Regions from separate parts of the Homo sapiens genome. Here all the other regions are linked to region 1. The links come from fine-mapping of genetic effects on plasma protein levels. A gene starts in region 1. Each other region holds a variant in brackets. All regions are shown on one strand. Distances are between the middles of the regions. Region 1 holds the start of SORD (sorbitol dehydrogenase). Region 2 has its middle 21 kb from the start of TERB2. Region 3 overlaps FRMD5 (FERM domain containing 5).

What was found. PIP is the posterior inclusion probability: the model's chance that the variant is causal. The UK Biobank Pharma Proteomics Project read protein levels with antibody pairs (Olink). The fine-mapping took linkage between variants from a reference panel, not from the people measured, so its PIPs are less certain.
Region 2: its variant is fine-mapped to the plasma level of the SORD protein (UK Biobank, PIP 0.93).
Region 3: its variant is fine-mapped to the plasma level of the SORD protein (UK Biobank, PIP above 0.99).

What each region holds. Positions count from the first base shown.
Region 1 is chr15:45,021,774-45,024,518 of GRCh38, forward strand. It overlaps SORD (sorbitol dehydrogenase), which reads left to right and starts at 1,422. Exons shown (of 9, transcript NM_003104.6): 1 at 1,422-1,576. The coding sequence starts at 1,511. RefSeq lists a silencer at 1,202-1,371 and an enhancer at 2,141-2,745.
Region 2 is chr15:44,934,309-44,937,072 of GRCh38, forward strand. No RefSeq gene overlaps it. Among named protein-coding and RNA genes, the nearest start is that of TERB2, 21 kb to the right of the region's middle. The variant A/G (reference allele first, on the strand shown) is at 1,235.
Region 3 is chr15:44,074,744-44,077,507 of GRCh38, forward strand. The region is part of intron 1 of FRMD5 (FERM domain containing 5); the gene reads right to left. Among named protein-coding and RNA genes, the nearest start is that of FRMD5, 120 kb to the right of the region's middle. The variant C/T (reference allele first, on the strand shown) is at 1,062.

The DNA of each region.
Region 1 (2,745 bases):
TTGGGCGGTTACATATTGGGGAGGGGGGACTGTAAGGGAATGAAATCCTGAGCATTATCCTCAAAGGAGGGAGGGGCCTTATAGACTTAGGCCTATCTAGAAGCGCCTCTCTCCTCAGAGAGTAAAACCTCACTGTTTCTCAGAGGGCTGAGAGGCTTGAAGGAAGAGTTTGGGCAGAAACTCTGCTTTGAATAGAAGCAGCAGATCCAGTTGAGAGAAAGAGGTTCACAAATTCCATTTCATGGCTTTTTTTTTTTTAAAGACAGATTTTCACTCTTGTTGCCCAGGCTGGTGTTGAATGGCATGATCTCAGCTCACTGCAACCTCTGCTTCCCAGGTTCAAGCTATTCTCCTGTCTCAGCCTCCCGAGTAGCTGAGATTAAGGCGCATGCCACCATGCCCGGCTAATTTTTGTATTTTTAGTAGAGACGGGGTTTTCACCATATTGGTCAGGCTGGTCTCGAACTCCTGACCTCAGGTGATCCACCTGCCTCGGCTTCCCAAAGTGCTGGGATTACAGGCAAGAGCCACTGCGCCCGGCCTCATGTCTTTTTTATACTTAAGCACCAGGCCCATGTAATGATGCACGAATTCATTTACTCCTACTCGTGCCAGGCCCTTTCCTGGGGGCTGGAGACAAAGGGCCGACGTGGACGCTGCGTCATGGTAGCACCTGTCTCGCAAAGTGCACACCGTGCTCCACCCACAGCCTCAGCATTCTCGTTGCTAGGAATATGGACCCTCAGGCAGCACCTCAGACCTAGACCTACTGTATCAGAATCTCTGTGCTGGTCCTGAGAATGTGCATTCTCAACAGCGCCTCACATTCCCCACCCCAATTCTTCTGCAGCTAACGTTTGAGAGCGCTGGTCTGGTGCCTACTGCCTCTGCAGGCGGTTTTCAAGGCAGCCGTGTGTGCTTGCATGTGAGGCGGCAAAAACAGCGCGCTGCAGGGCCGGCGCGGTGGCTCACGCCTGTAATCCCAGCACTTTGGGAGGCGGAGGCGGGTGGATCACGAGGTCAGGATATCGAGACCATCCTGGCTAACACGGTGAAACCCCGTCTCTACTAAACAAAAATACGTGGTGGTGGGCGCCTGTAGTCCCAGCTATTCGGGAGGCTGAGGCAGGAGAATGGCTTGAACCCGGGAGGCAGAGCTTGCAGTGAGCCGGGATCGCACCACTGTACTCCAGCCTCGGCGACAAACAAACAAACAAACAAAAAAAACAGCGCGCTGCAGATGGAGCCAGCACCCGGGCTTCTCGCTCCCAGCCCCCTCCCGAAGCCCCGCCCCGCCTCCGGGTCTGGAGGAGGCTGGGAAGCCCCGCCCCTCCACGCTAGCGCCGCCCAGGCTGGCACAAAGGAGGAAGCCTAGTCCCGCCCCTGCGTGCGGCGCTTCTCCCAGGCCCCACCTTCCATCCAGTGCCCTGGACCCTCGGCTGGGTAGCGCCACCAGAGCGACCAAACGTCCCGCGCCTTCCAGGCCGCACTCCAGAGCCAAAAGAGCTCCATGGCGGCGGCGGCCAAGCCCAACAACCTTTCCCTGGTGGTGCACGGACCGGGGGACTTGCGCCTGGTAAGCTGGGAAGGAGGGTGGGAAGCATACCGATCCTGCCTCACTCTCCTCTGAGCCCAGCCATAGTCCTGGCTTCCCACTTCCAGCCTGGCGCCGGCCCCGCACCTTAAGCGCCCTGGCTGCCCAGATCCCAGCTGGTTCCCCTCGGGGTGTGGGGGCAGCAGGTAGTGGCTGTTGCGAAGGGCAGGGATCTAGTCGTGTGCCTCCCGGAACCTAGCCCCGTGGCTGGCACGTGGCCGGTGCCCAGGACGGTTGCAAACTGTTTGAATGAAGCTTTCTCTCTCCTTTGCCAGCTGCAGATTCATAGTCCAGCCTCTTGTCATTGACCTTTCCAAAGGAAATGCTAAGGCTGTCTGAATTATCGGGGCAGACCGTGCAGAGCAGAGAAAGGGGGGCCAGAGGACACTTAGAAACAGCAGAACTTGTATTTAACTCCCTTGCTTGGGACTGATAAACCTCCCTTGCAGGATTATGATGATCACAAGAGTACTCAGCACTTAGTACGTGCTCAGGAAGTGCCAGCTCCTTCTCCTTTCCTTCCAGTCTAGGCCTCCATCTCCAGAACCCCTGCTGTTCCCCTTGCCTGTGCCAGACTTGTGGATCTTGATAGCTCCCTTGTCTGTAAGGATCCTTCTCTCCCTAAGACCCTGTCTGGTTCACTTTCCAGCAGTTTTTCTTTCCAATCCCGTGCCTCTGTCCCTTTAGGAGCATTCTGTATGTGTGTCCTCTGCCTTAGACCCTGCCTTTTGCTCCCTGGCTTGTGGCACCAAAGTTTAGGAAGTGGCTGAGTCAGCAGCCTAGTCATGCCAAGCCTCCCTTGACAAAGTCCCTCTCAGATGGGCCTGGGATGGCAGTGGGTATGTGGGATGAGTGCCAGCCATCTCTGCTGCTCCCCTGTACCTCTTTTCCCTCAAAGTACATGCGTCAGTATGTAAACTGCAGTAATTCAGAAGCTTATCCAGGTTAGCAGTTCTTGACTATTTAAGAATCTGTGGTGTCCCCTCCACAGAATGCAAATAGACTGAGTTTGGCAACAATTTCAGACTGCTCAAGGACTCCCTTTAAGCCGCTCTAAGCCCCTCTATAGAACCCTTGTCCCAGCTGACTCTCCATCTCCTCAGTTGAAGAAAGTACCATACCCAAGGTGATAGGTTTTGTTAGTTAACAGA
Region 2 (2,764 bases), 87 kb before region 1:
CAACACTCCAGCCTATACTTGATCACCTTTCCTTTCCACAGCACCTCACACTGGTTTATTACTTTTTTTTTTTTTTTTTTTTTTTGCAACAGAGTCTCGCTCTGTCCCCCAGGCTGGAGTGCAGTGGTGAGATCTCTACTCACTGCAAGCTCCGCCTCCTGGGTTCATGCCATTTCCTGCCTCAGCCTCCTGAGTTGTTGGGACTACAGGGCCGGCCACTACGCCCAGCTAATTTTTTTGTATTTTTTTTTTTTTTAGTAGAGACGGGGTTTCACCGTGTTAGCCAGGATGGTCTCAATCTCCTGACCTCATGATCCGCCTGTCTCACTCCGTCCTCACGTGGCCTTGTCTCTGGTTACTGCATCCCTGGTGCCTCTGTCTTCTCATAAAGACACCTGTCCTATTGGATGAGGGCCCCACCCACATGAGCTCATTTACCTTTAGGAGCCCCCTAAAGTCCCCGTTTTCAACTACAGTCACATTGGGAGTTAGGACTTTAACATATGAATTTTAGGGGGACACATTCAGCCTGTAACAGACATTTCAATTGTTTCTCGTGTCTTAATCTAATTCAAACTTAGCAGTGAGAGCTTCAGTAATCTCAGCCTCTGCCATCTCTCATAGCTGGGTAACTAGCCTTTCACAGGGTCTCACCTTGCTTGCTGAGGGTAAGTGTTAAATCACCCTTGTGACTGGCAGCTTTAAGCAAGTGCCTCATGAGGTAATAACCTACATTGGTCACATTGATTTTTTTATTTCCTTTTTTTTTTTAAATTGAGGCAGAGTCTCACTCTGCCGCCCAGGCTGGAGTGCAGTGGTGCGATCTCGGCTCACTGCAACCTCCACTTTCCAAGTTCAAGGGATTCTCCCACCTCTGCCTCCTGAGTAGCTGGGATTACAGGTGCCTGCCACCATGCCCAGCTAATTTTTTTTTTTTTGCATTATTAGTAGAGACGAGGGTGTCACCATGTTGACCAGGCTGGTCTCGAACTCCTGCACTCAGGTGATCCACCCGCCTCGGTCTCCCAAACTTCTGGGATTACAGGTATGAGCCACCATGCCGACCTTATTTCTTTATTGAAAAATAAATAGAAAAAAAAATTTAAGATGTAAAATGATATGAAATGAAAACCATCTCATCTTCTGTTCCTATCCCACTATCGTATATCTCTTAATTTTCATAATTTCCATTATTTTCATAAATAAGGGCTGTTTCTTTTATGAATTACTGAAA[A/G]CAATTCAAACTGGCTTGTAAAAAAGTGAAAATGAATGACCTCTGAAAAATGAACATTTTCAGATTTGTCTGGATTGGGTTTCAATTTTTTCTTTTCCTTTTTTTTTTTTTTGAGACAGGGTCTTGCTCTGTCACCCAAGCGGAGTACAGTGACACAATCTCGGCTCACTGCAGCCTCAATCTCCTGGGCTCAAGCAATCCCCCCACCTTAGCCTCCCAAATAGCTGGAACTACAGGCATGCACCACCACGCCTGGCTAATTTTCATTGTTTTTGTAGAGATGAGATTTTCCATGTTGCCCAGGCTCGTCTCAAACTGAGCTCAAGCGATCCACCCACCTCAGCCTCCCAAAGTGCTGGGGTTACAGGCGTAAGCCAGTGTGCCCAGCACTTTACTGTCTTTTACCATTTATCTCTTATATGGGATGAAGCACAGTGATTTACCAGGCCTGAGTTATGTGACTAATTTTATGGTGTGGATTGGGATGGATAATGTGTTTTCTGAAAAAAAAAAAAAAGAAAAGAAAAGAAAGAAAGAAAAAAAGAGAAAGAAAGAAGGAAAGAAAGAAAGAAAAAATGCAAGATACTGTTAACAGAAAAGGAAACAGGTGATAGGTAAGTCAATATTACAGATATTCACATTTAATGACAATTTAAAATATAATGCATGTATTGCTTTTTTTTCTTTTTTTTTTAACTGGCGCCTGGCTCATTTTTGTGTTTTTAGTAGAGATGGGGTTTCACCATATTGCCCAGGCTGGTCTCAAACTCCTGGCCCCAAGTGGTCCGCCCATCTTGGCTTCCCAAAGTGCTGGGATTACAGGCATGAGCCACTGTGCCCAGCCTATACTTGTTTTTTTATTGTGGTAAAATGTTTGTAACATAAAACTTACCATTTAACCACTTTTAAGTGTACAGTTCAGTGCCACTAAAGTGCATTCACAATGCTGTACAACCATCACCATTATCCATTTCCAGAACTTTTCCATCATCCCAGACAAACTCTGTACCCATTAAACAGTGACTCCCCAGCCTCTAGTAACCATTATTCTGCTTTTTGTCTCTGTGAATTTGCTTATTCTAGGTACCTCGTGAAAGCGGTATCATACGGTTTTGTCTTTCTGTGTCTGCCTTATTCCACTTAGCATAATGTTTTCAAGGTTCATCCATGTTGTCGGCTGTATCAGAATTTTATTCCTCTTAAGGCAGAATCATGTCCCGTTGTGTGTATTGTACAGATGCTCTCAATTTATGATGGAGCTACATCTCAATAAACCCACCGTAGATGGAAAATATCGTGTTGCAAATGCATTTAATACACCCAACCTACTGAACATCGTAGCTTAGCCTAACCTACCTTAAACATGCTCAGAACACTTAGATCAGCCTACAGCTGGGCAAAATCATCCAACACAAACCTTCTTTTATAATCAAGTGTTGAATATTTCCCGTAACTTATAGAATACTGAAAGTAGAAATCAGTATGGTTGTACGGGTACTTGAAGTACAGTTCCTATTGAATGGTTATCAC
Region 3 (2,764 bases), 950 kb before region 1:
TACCTTCTAGCTGCTATGGAAGGTCTATTTATTTGTTAATGGAGAAGTTAGTTGCTATAAGAAACTTTTAAACTTCCTCACAAGGGGTACAATACCTCCTGCCTGCTTTTCATAGTGACGTCAGCTTTAGTGCCATCACCAGGCATTTCTTAGGTCTGCATTTCAGAGGTCTAGTACTAATAACCTAAGCACTAAGGAAAAGACCATTGGGGTCCCTCTGAGCTATAAGGTGAAGCTAGTGCTTGGGCAGCTCTGGGTGATGAGCAGCCATTACAGTGCCTTTCCCGGTCCAGGCCAGCTCTTAGCACAAGTGACTCCTGAGGGAAATGGCTGATTACTTGGCTCTGAATAGTATAAAATAGAACATGTTTGCTTCTTCATTCCACATAATAAATTTCTTTTTAAAAAATCACATAGGCCTTGGAGGGTTTCTAAACATGGCTGGTTTGATACAGAGCCATCATAAGTAGACCCAGAAAATATCCTCTCCCTGGCTTGAACATCAACAATTTTAATGAATTGGATGGGAAATGAGGTCTTAGCCAAATAGATCTCAACTGGAAATTCTAAAGTGGTGCCAATTTTGAAGGAAAATGAATAAATTTCTTCAAACAAGAGACTGCTCAACTCTTGAACAGTCATAGTTTATTACAAATATTAAAGGAGTTAAGGAGATGTAAGTTTATTAAGCCCCTATTTCCATCATTAAAAAAAAGTTTCCCCTCTTAATTTAAGTGAGTCCTGTCTCAACCTTTTTGACATTTATAATACAAAACACTCCATTGTAAATACTCAAATGATGGTATAAATATAGGGAATTTCTCCCTATTTTAGACAGTACTTTCCTTTTAACTTAGGGTTTAGCAAATCAAAGAAAACAGGTATGTATGTAGCCATGGAAGCATTCAGAGTTGCCTCCCCTGCATATTCTCTGTTTGACTCATTTTTTCTATAGACGTTCCACAGGAAAAGGAGTGTTCCAACTAAAAACCAAAAAACTATCCAAATTCAATTATTCACTCCCCTGATATGAGAGCAGGAGCTCGTGAAAGCACAAGTCC[C/T]GACAAGCAGAGGAAAACACTCAGATAAATGAAAAGCTCTATGATTGCCATTCTAACTGGTGTGAGATGGTATCTCATTGTGGTTTTGATTTGCATTTCTCTGATGGCCAGTGATGATGAGCATTTTTTCATGTGTTTTTTGGCTGCATAAATGTCTTCTTTTGAGAAGTGTCTGTTCGTGTCCTTCGCCCACTTTTTGATGGGGTTGTTTGTTTTTTTCTTGTAAATTTGTTTGAGTTCATTGTAGATTCTGGATATTAGCCCTTTGTCAGATGAGTAGGTTGCGAAAATTTTCTCCCATTAAAAAGTCAGGAAACAACAGGTGCTGGAGAGGATGTGGAGAAATAGTAACACTTTTACACTGTTGGTGGGACTGTAAACTAGTTCAACCATTGTGGAAGTCAGTGTGGCAATTCCTCAGGGATCTAGAACTAGAAATACCATTTGACCCAGCCATCCCATTACTGGGTACATACCCAAAGGACTATAAATCATGCTGCTATAAAGACACATGCACACGTATGTTTATTGTGGCATTATTCACAATAGCAAAGACTTGGAACCAACCCAAATGTCCAACAATGATAGACTGGATTAAGAAAATGTGGCACATATACACCATGGAATACTATGCAGCCATAAAAAATGATGAGTTCATGTCCTTTGTAGGGACATGGATGAAATTGGAAATCATCATTCTCAGTAAACTATCGCAAGAACAAAAAACCATATACTGCATATTCTCACTCATAGGTGGGAATTGAACTATGAGATCACATGGACACAGGAAGGGGAACATCACACTCTGGGGACTGTTGTGGGGTGGGGGGAGGGGGGAGGGATAGCATTGGGAGATATACCTAATGCTAGATGATGAGTTAGTGGGTGCAGTGCACCAGCATGGCACATGTATACATATGTAACTAACCTGCACAATGTGCACATGTACCCTAAAACTTAAATTATAATAATAAAAAAGAAAAGAAAAAAAAAAAGCTCTATGAACAAGTATAGAGGCTTTCTGGTCTCCAGACTTAAAATGATACCTCTTATAGTCATCTCTCAGTCTGAGATGTCCAGAAATGGGTATCTTAGAGTGACCCACAGTTGTTACCAAAAATCTCAATTCAACCATCACATGTATTCTCAGAAATGCCAGATTCATCTGCTTGGCTAGCACAGATTTATTCTTGGATATAGACTGCTATAGGGAAATGTTGTGATGTCTGAAATAACAACACTCTCGCCTTGATACTTTCCCCAGAAAACATTTCTTTTGCTCACTCTCTTGGAACATTTTCCCTGGGGAAATCTATAAGTCAAGCATAACAGGTTATGACATATCCATGTCAATGGGTAACTGAATACATTTTAGGAATAAATTGTCATTACCTATCATGCCTTAATGTTCATGTAAATCAAAGAAACTACTTTCCACTTAAAACACACAGAAACTATTATTTTTCCTTTTCTTCTCAAGAGCTATGGTGTACTACTCTGGAGTAGGAATATTACTAGAGTAGCTTGAGGATTTGTTTGTTTCTGAGAAAAATCATTACAAAGAAATGGGCACTTATTTAAAATGTTCTTAAACACATGGAGAATATATTCAACTGCATTGTCAAAAAACTAAACCAAAACTGTAAGAGATTACAAAAAGAAATGATAAATAACTGCAAGATTAAAAAAGAAGACAACAATGA